Linked DNA regions of Homo sapiens: region 2 is linked to region 1. The links come from fine-mapping of genetic effects on gene expression. Tissue or cell type: hypothalamus. Region 1 holds a variant in brackets; the other region holds the start of a gene. All regions are shown on one strand. Distances are between the middles of the regions.

Region 1 (5,527 bases):
ACATCAATGCATAAGGTGCAGCGGGTGAATCAGAGCCACTGATTAAAAATAAAGGCAACATAAAGTACTGGGTAACTTTGAAAACAAAACAGCACAGACTTCTCTGACTTTAGTTGGTCATAAGAAATTTTCTCCAGCTCTTCATTTTTAAAAAAGAGAAATAATTTAAAGAGCAGGTTTGAATGAACAATAACTCAGTTGGTATCTCAATAAGGCCACTTTACTAGCGGGCAATCTGGGCAAACTAGTCTCTTAAGTTTGACCTTAGTTTCCTTATCTGTAAAATGGGGTAATAACACATACAGTTGTTAGTTATAAAGTGTGACACTGTTTACTTATATACTTGTCCCAGTACACACACACACACACACACACACACACACACACACAAATGTTAAAATATGAAACACTTGGTAAGCAAAAGTTAACCCTGGAAGCGGATTTGGCACAACTATGGGAAATGGTGGCCTTGCCTCATTGAGAACAGAGATTTTCTAACTGTGAAGCTTCTGGGCTCTGCAGTGGTTTGAATTTTGGGAAGTGTTCTGTATGTCCTTTAACTATCTGGTTGTCACTGAACGCTCCCAGCCCAATCATCCCCAGAGACTATTGTAATTAGTAACTGAGTAAGTGACAATGAAAGAGGGTTTATAAAGAAAATATATGCCATCCAAACAGAAAGTTCACAAGTTTCCTGGACACAGCTCTTTCTTTTCTAAATCTGTTTTTTGCTGGCAGGATGCAAGCAGTCTCTTTCCTTTACAGTCACAGATTTCAATGGCATTTTAAAAAGTACTAGGTCTCCTTTCTTTACTCACAGTGTGCATTTCCCAGGCATTTCTACAGAAGTTCAAACAGACTTCAGACACAAGATCACAGAAGATCCTTTCTCCAGAAACAATGACTGTTTCCTGCCTTACCTGCATTCTCAGTTGGTTTGCTTTGGAGGAATAAACTTAGTCTCAAATCCTTCTTCATCCAGGCAGTCATATTGAAACTGGATCAGATGGTGTTTAGATCTTTACAGCCTGTGGCCCTGAAGGAGTTCACCTCACTGAGCATTAGTCTTCTCATCTGTAAGAATATAAGAGTGTCTTTCAACCCCTACCCTGACCCTGTCCCACTGGAGGGCTTGCTTCTAAGAGGACAGCTCCTTTTGGAAGCATGAGCCAGAGACCCAACTTGAACCAGTGTCAGTCCAAGACTTGGATTCTCTTTTCAGGCTTAATGCCACTCTTCTTTTGCTTGTTCTTTCATCTTCTTTTAAATCTTAATTCCAAATGAGTCTCTTTTTTGTCCCTGATTAAGCCTTTTAATAAATCTTTTTTTCCTTGAATGAGTATTAATCCTTTTCCCTGAATAAACATAAAACATGTGCAGTGTTCTTTTGGCCTTCTGCAAGAATACATTGTTCTGTGTGGCCAAGAACCAACCTATCCGAGTACAAAATTTACTGCAAAGAATTTTTAGGTAGTGTCAAACAAGAGCCATTGAGGGCTAACTAACAATAAGCTTTCTACTCTTCTTTAAAGATTTGTCTAGTATATTTTTTAAGACTAACAAATCATCACTGAGTGCAGAAAGCCCAAAATTGCTCAAATAAGATGCATACCAGGTTAGTATGCAGTTCTGCAGCTCAGGGACCTAGGCTCCTCTTGTCTCGTAGTTCTGCTATGAATGGCCTCCATTCTCATGGTTGTTGTCATATTCTGAGACTGTTGCTCCAGCTTCAGCTTTTGCCTCCATACTTAACATTTCAGACTCCAGAAAGGAGGAAAAGGAAGTCCTATAAGAATTTTATTTTCCCCCAAGAAAAAATGCATAAAGTAGTTAAAATTACATCCCATTGGCCAGGACTCAGTCACATGGCTGTATCTAGTAGCAAGGGAGTCTGGGAAATGCAGTCTTTATTCCAGGCATCATGTGCAGGCTAAAAAGGGGAGAGGATTCTATTACTATACAGGAAGAGAAAACTGGGTATTGGGAGGCAACTAACAGCCTCTGTCACCAGTGGTTTTTATGCTGGTCTCACCATCTGGCCAGGAAGGAGAGATACAACAGGCTAAACCCAGAGTTGCCAAACTTTTTCTGTAAAGGGCCAGCTAGTTAATATTTTAGGCTTTGTGGCCATGCTGTCTCTGTTTCAATCACTCAACTCTGCTATTGTAGTGAAAACATGCATTGACAATATGTAAATGAATGTGTGTGGTAGGATTTGACACTTGGGCCTTAATTTGCTTACTCCTGAGCTAAACAGTAATACTAATACTAAAATTAAGACATATTCTTTACTTACTGTGAATGTGCGAGGCACT[G/C]TGCTGAGCTGAGCACCTCACAGACATTTTCTTAATTTCCTACAAAAACTCTGTGATGTAGGTAACATCATCATGATCATCACCAGTTTTATCTATGAGGAAACGGAGGCATGGAGAAATGAAATGATTTGCCGAAGGTCAATAGTTTGTAAGTGGCAGATGGGTTTTAAGTGGAGACATCAACTCTGGGACCCATTCCTACCTTTCTCTCTGAGAAAGTCTGGGCAAGGGGGCAACCAGAGGTTCATGACCAGGGATTTGCTCCAAGGCAGTGAATTTAGGAGGCACAAAAGACTTAAATAATGACTTTAAAAGTTTAGTACCTAGTTAGCAAAAATAGTTGGTTGAAGCTGTTAGACAGAGCGTTGGTAAGAAACCTCGCTGTGGGCCGCATCAAGAACTACTTTGTTGATTTAAGGGCTTAAGTGATCTTCTGAGAACCTTAATGTCTCCAAATCAAGGTAACTGGCTGTGTGTCGGTATTGGTGGGGCTTTTAGGGTGAGGGCCCCACTGCAGGTAGCTGTGACTAGGTCGGGGCTGCTGTGTACTAGCATGTGACTATGAAGAGAGCAGGAAGTGACATGTGTAGCTCCATAGGGCTGCTCAGGTCACGGTCTGAATTTCCATATGAGGTGGTCTAGTGGCCGGAGAAGGCAGAAGGAGACAGAATTCCAGGAACTGGGGAAAGCCTGGATGAATGAGAGAGGTGAGAGCCCCAGGGAGCTTTCTTTTCTTTTGTTTTTTAAGACAGGCTGGAATGCAGTGGCACGAACTCAGCTCACTGCAGCCTCAACCTCCCAAGCTCAAGCCATCCTCCCTTGTAGCAGGGACTACAGGCAAGTGCCACCACACCTGGCTGAGTGTTTTTCCTTTCTTTTTTTTTTTTTTTTTTTTTTTTTTTTGCAGAGATGGGGCTCTGCCTTGTTACCCAGGCTGGTCTCAAACTCCTGAGCTTAAGTGATTCACCTACCTCAGCCTCCCAAAGTGCTGGGAGAGCTTTATTTTCAAATAAAGGGCAAGACATTTGATTCGGAGGAGAGATAAAAGAGAAGGTGCCCCCAGATCTTGCTGCTAGAGTAATGCTTGAACCCAGCAGAAAACCCTCCTTCTCTGTAGGAAACTGGCAAGTCTATATTTTTAGCACCTAGCAACCTTGTATGACATACTAAGATTGCCCTCCAATGATGCTATCTCCAGGGAGGGCCGTTTAGCTAAGCAGAGCATGGGCCTCCTTGGCTGGAGCACTGACTTTGCCACCACAAGGCCTAAAGTTCCTTTCCAGCTCTTCATAATTTCTGGAAAGCCACCTGATTTCTCAAATCAGGGATAATTTATTATCAATAATCTGAACATTACATATGGTTTGCAGAGCAGCTGCATGTGTATTATTTCATTTGATTTTCATAACAACTCTGAAGAGAAGTGGTGAGCAAAATGAAATTAACACATATGGCTCTCAAATGCTAGGTGTGGCTGGTTTGATACTTTGCTGTGTACCATCTCATACAGTCCTTCAGCCATCCCGGGAGGTAGGCCATTATTATGTGCCTATTTTAAAGATGGAAAAGTAGACTCAGAGAACTTAAATAATCTGTCCAAGACCTGACGACTCACAGCTGGCATGTGATATTGCTTGACCTTGAACCCCATCTTCTGAAATCAGTTTCAGAGCCCCTCTCACTATTGTTCAGCCGTGGGTGCCCACAGAATGCACAAAAAGGAAGTAAACACTGGTGGATGTCAAGGACTTGGGCGGAAATCATCCTACCCAAATTCCAGAGCTACTGGTTCAAATAAAATTTAAAAACAACAACAGTCCCTGAAGAGAAGTAACCTGTGCAGGAAAACCGAGGGGCCTCTCAGTGGGTGCAGATCAGGCCTGGACATGTAGGGGCTCAGTACACCCTTCTTTAGTAATGGAGACCTGTGGCTGGGGACGGTGGCTCACACCTGTAATCCCAGCACTTTGGGAGGCTAAGGCGGGTGGATTGCTTGAGCTCAGGAGTTCGAGACCAGCCTGGGCAACATGGTGAAACCCCATCTCGGCCAAAAATACAAAAATTAGCCAGATGTGGTGGCATGTGCCTGTGGTCCCAGCTACCTGTGAGGCTAATGAGGAAGGAACGCTGGAGCCTGGGAAGTTGAGGCTGCAGTGAGCTGTGATCATGTAACTGCACTCCACCTGGGTGACAGAGCCAGACCCAGTCTCAAAAATAAATATATAAATAAATATATTTTTTAAGAAAAACAGTGAAGGCCTGTGTTCCTGATGGAACAGTGAACCTAACCAAGAAACAGTTGTTAATTTATTCATTCACCCATTCAACTGACATGTATTGAGAGTCACACTGTTCAGATGCAGGACACAAGAAGGCTGATGTCCAGTGACTACTTTGCAGTCAGGCCAGCTGAGGGTTTACAGATGGGCATCCCTTCTGATGGGTTGGAGTCTATGCCAGACCTGTTGTTAAATAATTTGGATACCACCACTAGATATAGTAATAAACAAGTTCCTGCCCTTGGGGCCTTATACTTTCATGAGGGGAGAGAGCTGATTTAAAGTCAGGCAGTGGTAAGAGCCATAATACCAATAGGACAGGGTGATGTGATGAAGGTGCATTAGGCATGGTAATCCTGAAAGGCTTTTCTGAAGAGGTGATATTTAAGCTGGCATCTAACATCAGGAGGGAGCCGGCCTCTGCAAGAAGGGCATCTCATGGAGAGGGAACAGCCACTGCGAGGGTCTGAGGTGGGAATAAGGCTGGTGTGTTTGAGACAGAAGGAAGTTCAGTGTGACTGGAGCACAGAGGGTGCGGGAAAGACAGGGGTACACAGGAGGAGTGGGGAGGGTGTGGCTGATTCACACAGGGCTCTGAAAGTGTTTGAAATTTCCTCTAAGTTTCAAGGAAACCATCGGAGGGTCTTAAACAAGGAGTGACATGATAGGATTTATGTTCCTAGATGATCACGTGGGTTGCAGTGTGGAGAATGGATTCTAAGGGGGCAAGACTGGATGCAGGGAGACTTGCTGGGAAGTTTTATAGTCATCTGGAGACTGTGACATGGACTGTGGAGACAGCCATGGTGATGGAGTGAAGTGGATTGCTTTGGGCTATATATTGGGTATGGAGTTGACAGCTGATTTGGACATATTGGAAAGGGAGAGGAATTGTGTTTGCCTCCGAGTTTTCGGGCCTGAGCAGTGAAGATG
Region 2 (5,000 bases), 40 kb before region 1:
CCCTGTCATGGGCTACAGTGGAGGAACCAAGGGGAGGGGCCAGGCTATGTCCCGGCTCTGACACTGATGAGTGGAAGGGGTGGCTTTGGGCCACTTGTATCATGTCTCTTATTCCTCATCTGTAAAATGTGGCAGTTTGACTGATGGACCTCTCAGCACCATGGAGAAGTTTTAAAGGTGGCAAATAACACATTTTACACCTTCAGGCTCTCCCCACTCTTTTATGAATAAGCATCTATAAGACAGGATGTCTAATTCTTCTGGAGATTCCTGAATATCCTGCCTTTGTCCAGGTTGGGCAATGCTAAATGCCAGTTCTGACCAATGGTGCAGGTATTAATTTCACAGTGAGGATCTTGTTTCAATGTATTTAAATTAGGTGATGTGGAGATGGAACATTCTGACAGAAGAGTTGGGACAAAGTGACAGATATAAGCCCCCTAACATCTATATGTTTCTCAGTGAGACTCAAACTGCTTCCCTAGGCTTTGCAGAGCCCTCTCCCAGATTGTGTGTATGTGTGTGTGTGTGTGTGTGTGTGTGTGTGTGTGTGTGTAGAGGGAGCGTGCTATAGGCAGCCTTTCTATGTCTGCACTGTGAACAGATGTGGTCAGCATTTCTAGGGCCATTTATGGCTTTCTAGTTATATATTTTTCTTGCTTTGTTTTGCCACTTCCCTGAAAAACATCCTCCATTAGTTTCCTATTGTTACTGTCGAAAATGACCACAAACTTAGTGTCTTAGAACAACACCAGTTTATTATCCCACAGTTCTGGAAGTCAGAAGTCTAAAGTGGCTCTCACTGAGCTAAAATCAAGGGGTTGACAGCATTGTGTTCCTTTCTGGAGGCCCTGGGAGAGAGTGTTTTCTTGCCCTTTCTAGCGTCTAGAGGTGACCCTCATTCTTTGGTTTGTGGCCCTTTCCTCCATTTTCAAAGCCAGCAGTGGGTTGTAGAACCTTATTCACATCCCATAACTCTGACACCAACCCTGCTGAACCTCTGTGCTAACACTGGTCCAGAATCATCCAGAATAATCTCCCTACTTTAAAGTCAGCTGATCAGTAGCTTGCTTCCACCTTCAACCTTAATTTCCCTTTGCCATGTCACATGATGTATTCACACGTTCTGGTGATTAGGATGTGAATGTCTTTTGGGAAGGGAGAGAAACTAATCTGCTGATATACTATATAGGCATATGGTAATTTCTTTATCAGACTGAAAAGAGATAGGTTAACAGTGATTAACATTTTCTCAATGCAAAACTTTTTACTTAACTCAGGGAAAAATTATCTTTTGTATAAAAATGGATGCTTCTGAGCAAATGCATGATCAGCAAAGAATAGTTGTATGTTCAGTTACTGGACAGGAGGAACAGTCTTCTTCCCTTAGGTATAGGACAGAATCATACAAAAGTAAAAGTGTATTTATGTGAGAAGTGTGTGTGTGTGTGTGTGTGTGTGTGTGTGTGTGTGTAGGCAGTCATGCACTGGAGGGGGCTCACTCTGGCATGTGAGAGCCATTGTGTGTCTATATTTTCCTAAGTTCATGTTCAGTGACATCACTGAATGACTTGAAATTAGCCATGGTGGGAGTATTTACACCATAGAAAGCGGCAAATGCTGTAAGTCAGGGTTTTATTTTCCCCTGGAGAGCCCATTGTTAAACACTAATGGGCTCACCACTAGAGTAGAGACTCACTGCCTTCGGTTCATGTGCACAACACCGCTGTGTGGCCTTACTGCTCCTGTGGGATCCCCAGACTCTCTAGCTGGAGAAGGGGCAAATCCCAGGCCGCATCCAGACCAGCGGGCCTAGCCACAAACACAGCTGCTGCAGTTCTCCCTCTGCTATCTCAACTTCCCTAGTTGCTATAGTAGCGTGGACTGGATGGGGAGCTACACTTTCTCTCATGTGGGCAAAAGCTTGCTTCTTCGTCACTCCCCACTGTTTGAACTTCTCTCTGTCTAGCATTTTTTTCCTGACCAGTCTGTGTACCCGTCGTTGATCTGTCCGCTTGGATGGAGCCAGTGCTCTTTCTTAGAGTTGCATTCACTTGCCCTCGCTTGTGCTTGTCTTGCTCCCCCAGGAGCTATGAGATCAGTGCTGCCCAGATTTTAGGGGAGTTATCAGGGGAGCTTGTTAAAATGCAGACTCCAAGACTCTGCCCCCAGAGATTCTGATTGGGAAGGTCTGAGATGAGCCCCAAGGATCTGCATTATTGACAAGCACTATTATTATTAGCATTACTGACATTATTATTGGCATAATTCTAATTATTGACATCACTGACAAGATTCTGAGGCCAGGGGTTCATGGGCCACCCTGACTTGCCCAGTCTGGAAGCTCCCTGAAAGCCTGGCAGGCCACCCTACTTCAGCTGCATTCGGTCCATACACTGAGGGTCTCAGTGGGGAAAAAGCAGAGTCATTTTAAAGAAACATGGATCTTAGTTTCTAGAAGGTTTTTCCCCATCTGGCAGACAAATTTATGCCTATTCCACACACAGGTGGGTGCAGAATACCATGTTCCCAGGTTCCCAGAGAAGAGGAAACTTTTCCCCAAGAACTTTATCAGGTAGAAATGTGAAAAATTCACACAGCTGCCAAGACAGTGGATCCTCCTGAGTGCATGTATTTTGAGTATTTGAAACCATCTGAATGATTTATTGAACTTTTTACTTTCCGTGGACGTGCTTACTGGGTGTTGTAAGATGTGAACCTCACAGCCAGAGACAATGTCTGTTGAAAGGAAGATTCAATCTTCACTAAGCGCAACCCAGCTTGTTTTTCAGCAGCTAACCAACCACTCTGACTGTGGCAATTTTCTTAGCAGGAAAAATTTTAGATGGTTGTGTGGTTTCTAGCTTTATTCTTTTTCATTTTACACGTGAAATGTTTGGGATCAGATTGGTTTTCTTTAGAACTATGGTCCAAATTAATTTAAACTGACTTAATTATAAAGAAAGAGATAAATTGCTACCTTTAGGAGCTTTTGACCTCAAGTCCTCTGATATTTGAGACAAAGTTTTTTATCCCCTGGGATGAAATCCTTCAGTAGCATGTAGGCGAGTTTTGAGCAAAGCAAAGAGTAATGAAAACTCTAATATAAAGGCTGTAATTTTCTAAAGAAGTCTGTTCCTTATTAAGATCAAGTACATGTCAGTCATCTTATATTTTGGGAACATCCACCAAATGCAGGAACTGTACTGGGTGCTTTTCCATGTGTGGAAAATTTTATCCAGCGTAATCAATTTTTCTAGTGCAATAAACATATTAAAAAGAAGGCAAATGAGATATTTCTGTATCTCATCAGCATGAATAATATATTCGAGTTTTCCCCTGACCACATAAGACTTGGGCTTGAATACTACCCTGCCTCCATGGGTCTCTTCTTCATATAAAGAAAGGGGAGAACATTTGTGTTAAGTACCACATAAAGGAGGTTGTGAGAATCTAATGCAATGATGTGTATGAAAGAGTTTTATCAAAGAGGAAGCAAAATTAATATAGTTTATAATTCTGAATTTATATAGTTTATAAATATTAAATTCTATATGCAAGTATACATTCCACCCATACAATTCTAATATATTTCCTTTACTCCAATGCCCTCTAGTAGTACAACAGAATTACTGTGTTATTGTTTTGAGATGAAGTTATTATATAATATTTTAAGATGAATTATTGTATTGTCATTTTGCAATGAAAACTGTAAAATGTTTCCTCTTCCTTTTCACTTCCTTTTTTTAAAATTAACTTTCCTTCTTTTTAATAGTAACCAGTTCTTTTCTGGAAGTGTCTCAGTATGTGGGTTTTCACATACTGGTTGATCAGAGGCTTGAAGGTACAATCAACTCTTCCCTGCTAGCAGGGTGGAAGGAGTTAGTTTAACTCATTCTTGAGCCCCCAGAGAACTGGGTCTCATGACATGCTCTCTCTTTTTCTCCTTTTTCCTGCCCTCTTGGAAGTATACTGAGAGGTTTTTGAGGAGGACTCAGTTGTATATATGGTCTGCAACGACTGCCTGGTTCTTCTTTCTCTTTCCAAATTTTACATCTGGCATGAAAAGAGAGGCAATTCTAAATGTAAATATGACTTCTTGATTACTTAAAAATACTCCTCTCTAGCTCATATACATAGCAATTTTGTGTAAATATATGTTAAACATCAAGGCCCATTGAAAGAAGAAAGAAATCACATAATTATAATAGCTAATCAATCTAGAATACAAACACTTCCAGATTTATTAGATTTATCAAAGACACTAGCATAATTTCTTTTGTTGCATATTTTTCCTATTTACAGAAGTAACATGTTAATTATAGAAGATATGATAAATCTGGAAAAATACAAAGAAGCAGCAAATTGCACATTCTGCCAAAATTCAGAGATAACTCTTATGAATATTTTTAGAATAGTTTTTTAGTCTTATTTTCTTTGTAGGTATACACACGCAGAAACACACATACACACTCCTTTTTCATATATTTGATTGTATTGTAATTATGTTTTATTTGTTTCCTTAATCAACAAACATTTATTTCTCACAGTTCTGGAGGCTGGGAGGTTCAAGATCAAGATGCAGGCAGATTCATCTCCTGGTGAGGGCCTCTTCCTGGCTTGCAGACTTCTTGCTATGTCCTCTCCTGATGGAGAGAATGAGCTCTGGTGTCTCTCCCTCTTCTAACGGGACCAGTCCCATCACAGGGTCCTGCCCTCATGACCTCATCTAAACGTAATTACCTTCCAAAGGCTCCACCTCCAAATACCATTACATTGGGGGTTAGGGCTTCAACATGGATTTTAAGGGATATCAACAATTAGTCCATAACGTTTTGCCCCAGGTCCCCCAAAATTCATGTCCTTCTTCCATGCAAAATACATTTATTCCATCCCAACAACCTCAAAAGTCTTGACTTATTCCAGCAACAACTTTAAGGTCTAAAGTCCAAAGTCTCATCTAAGTATCATCTAAATTAGATACGGTAGTTACATTTTAT

Evidence for each region. PIP is the estimated chance that this variant, and not a neighbour inherited with it, causes the effect.
Region 2: it holds the start of TAB2-AS1, and the variant in region 1 is the best candidate, but not a certain one, in a credible set for the expression of TAB2-AS1 in hypothalamus (GTEx, PIP 0.54).

Annotation. Positions count from the first base shown.
Region 1 is chr6:149,214,170-149,219,696 of GRCh38, reverse strand. It overlaps a transcript of TAB2 not described here. Among named protein-coding and RNA genes, the nearest start is that of TAB2-AS1, 41 kb to the left of the region's middle. RefSeq lists an enhancer at 1,831-1,920. The variant G/C (reference allele first, on the strand shown) is at 2,316.
Region 2 is chr6:149,254,891-149,259,890 of GRCh38, reverse strand. It overlaps TAB2-AS1 (TAB2 antisense RNA 1), which reads left to right and starts at 2,340. Exons shown (of 3, transcript NR_149096.1): 1 at 2,340-2,507. It also overlaps a transcript of TAB2 not described here.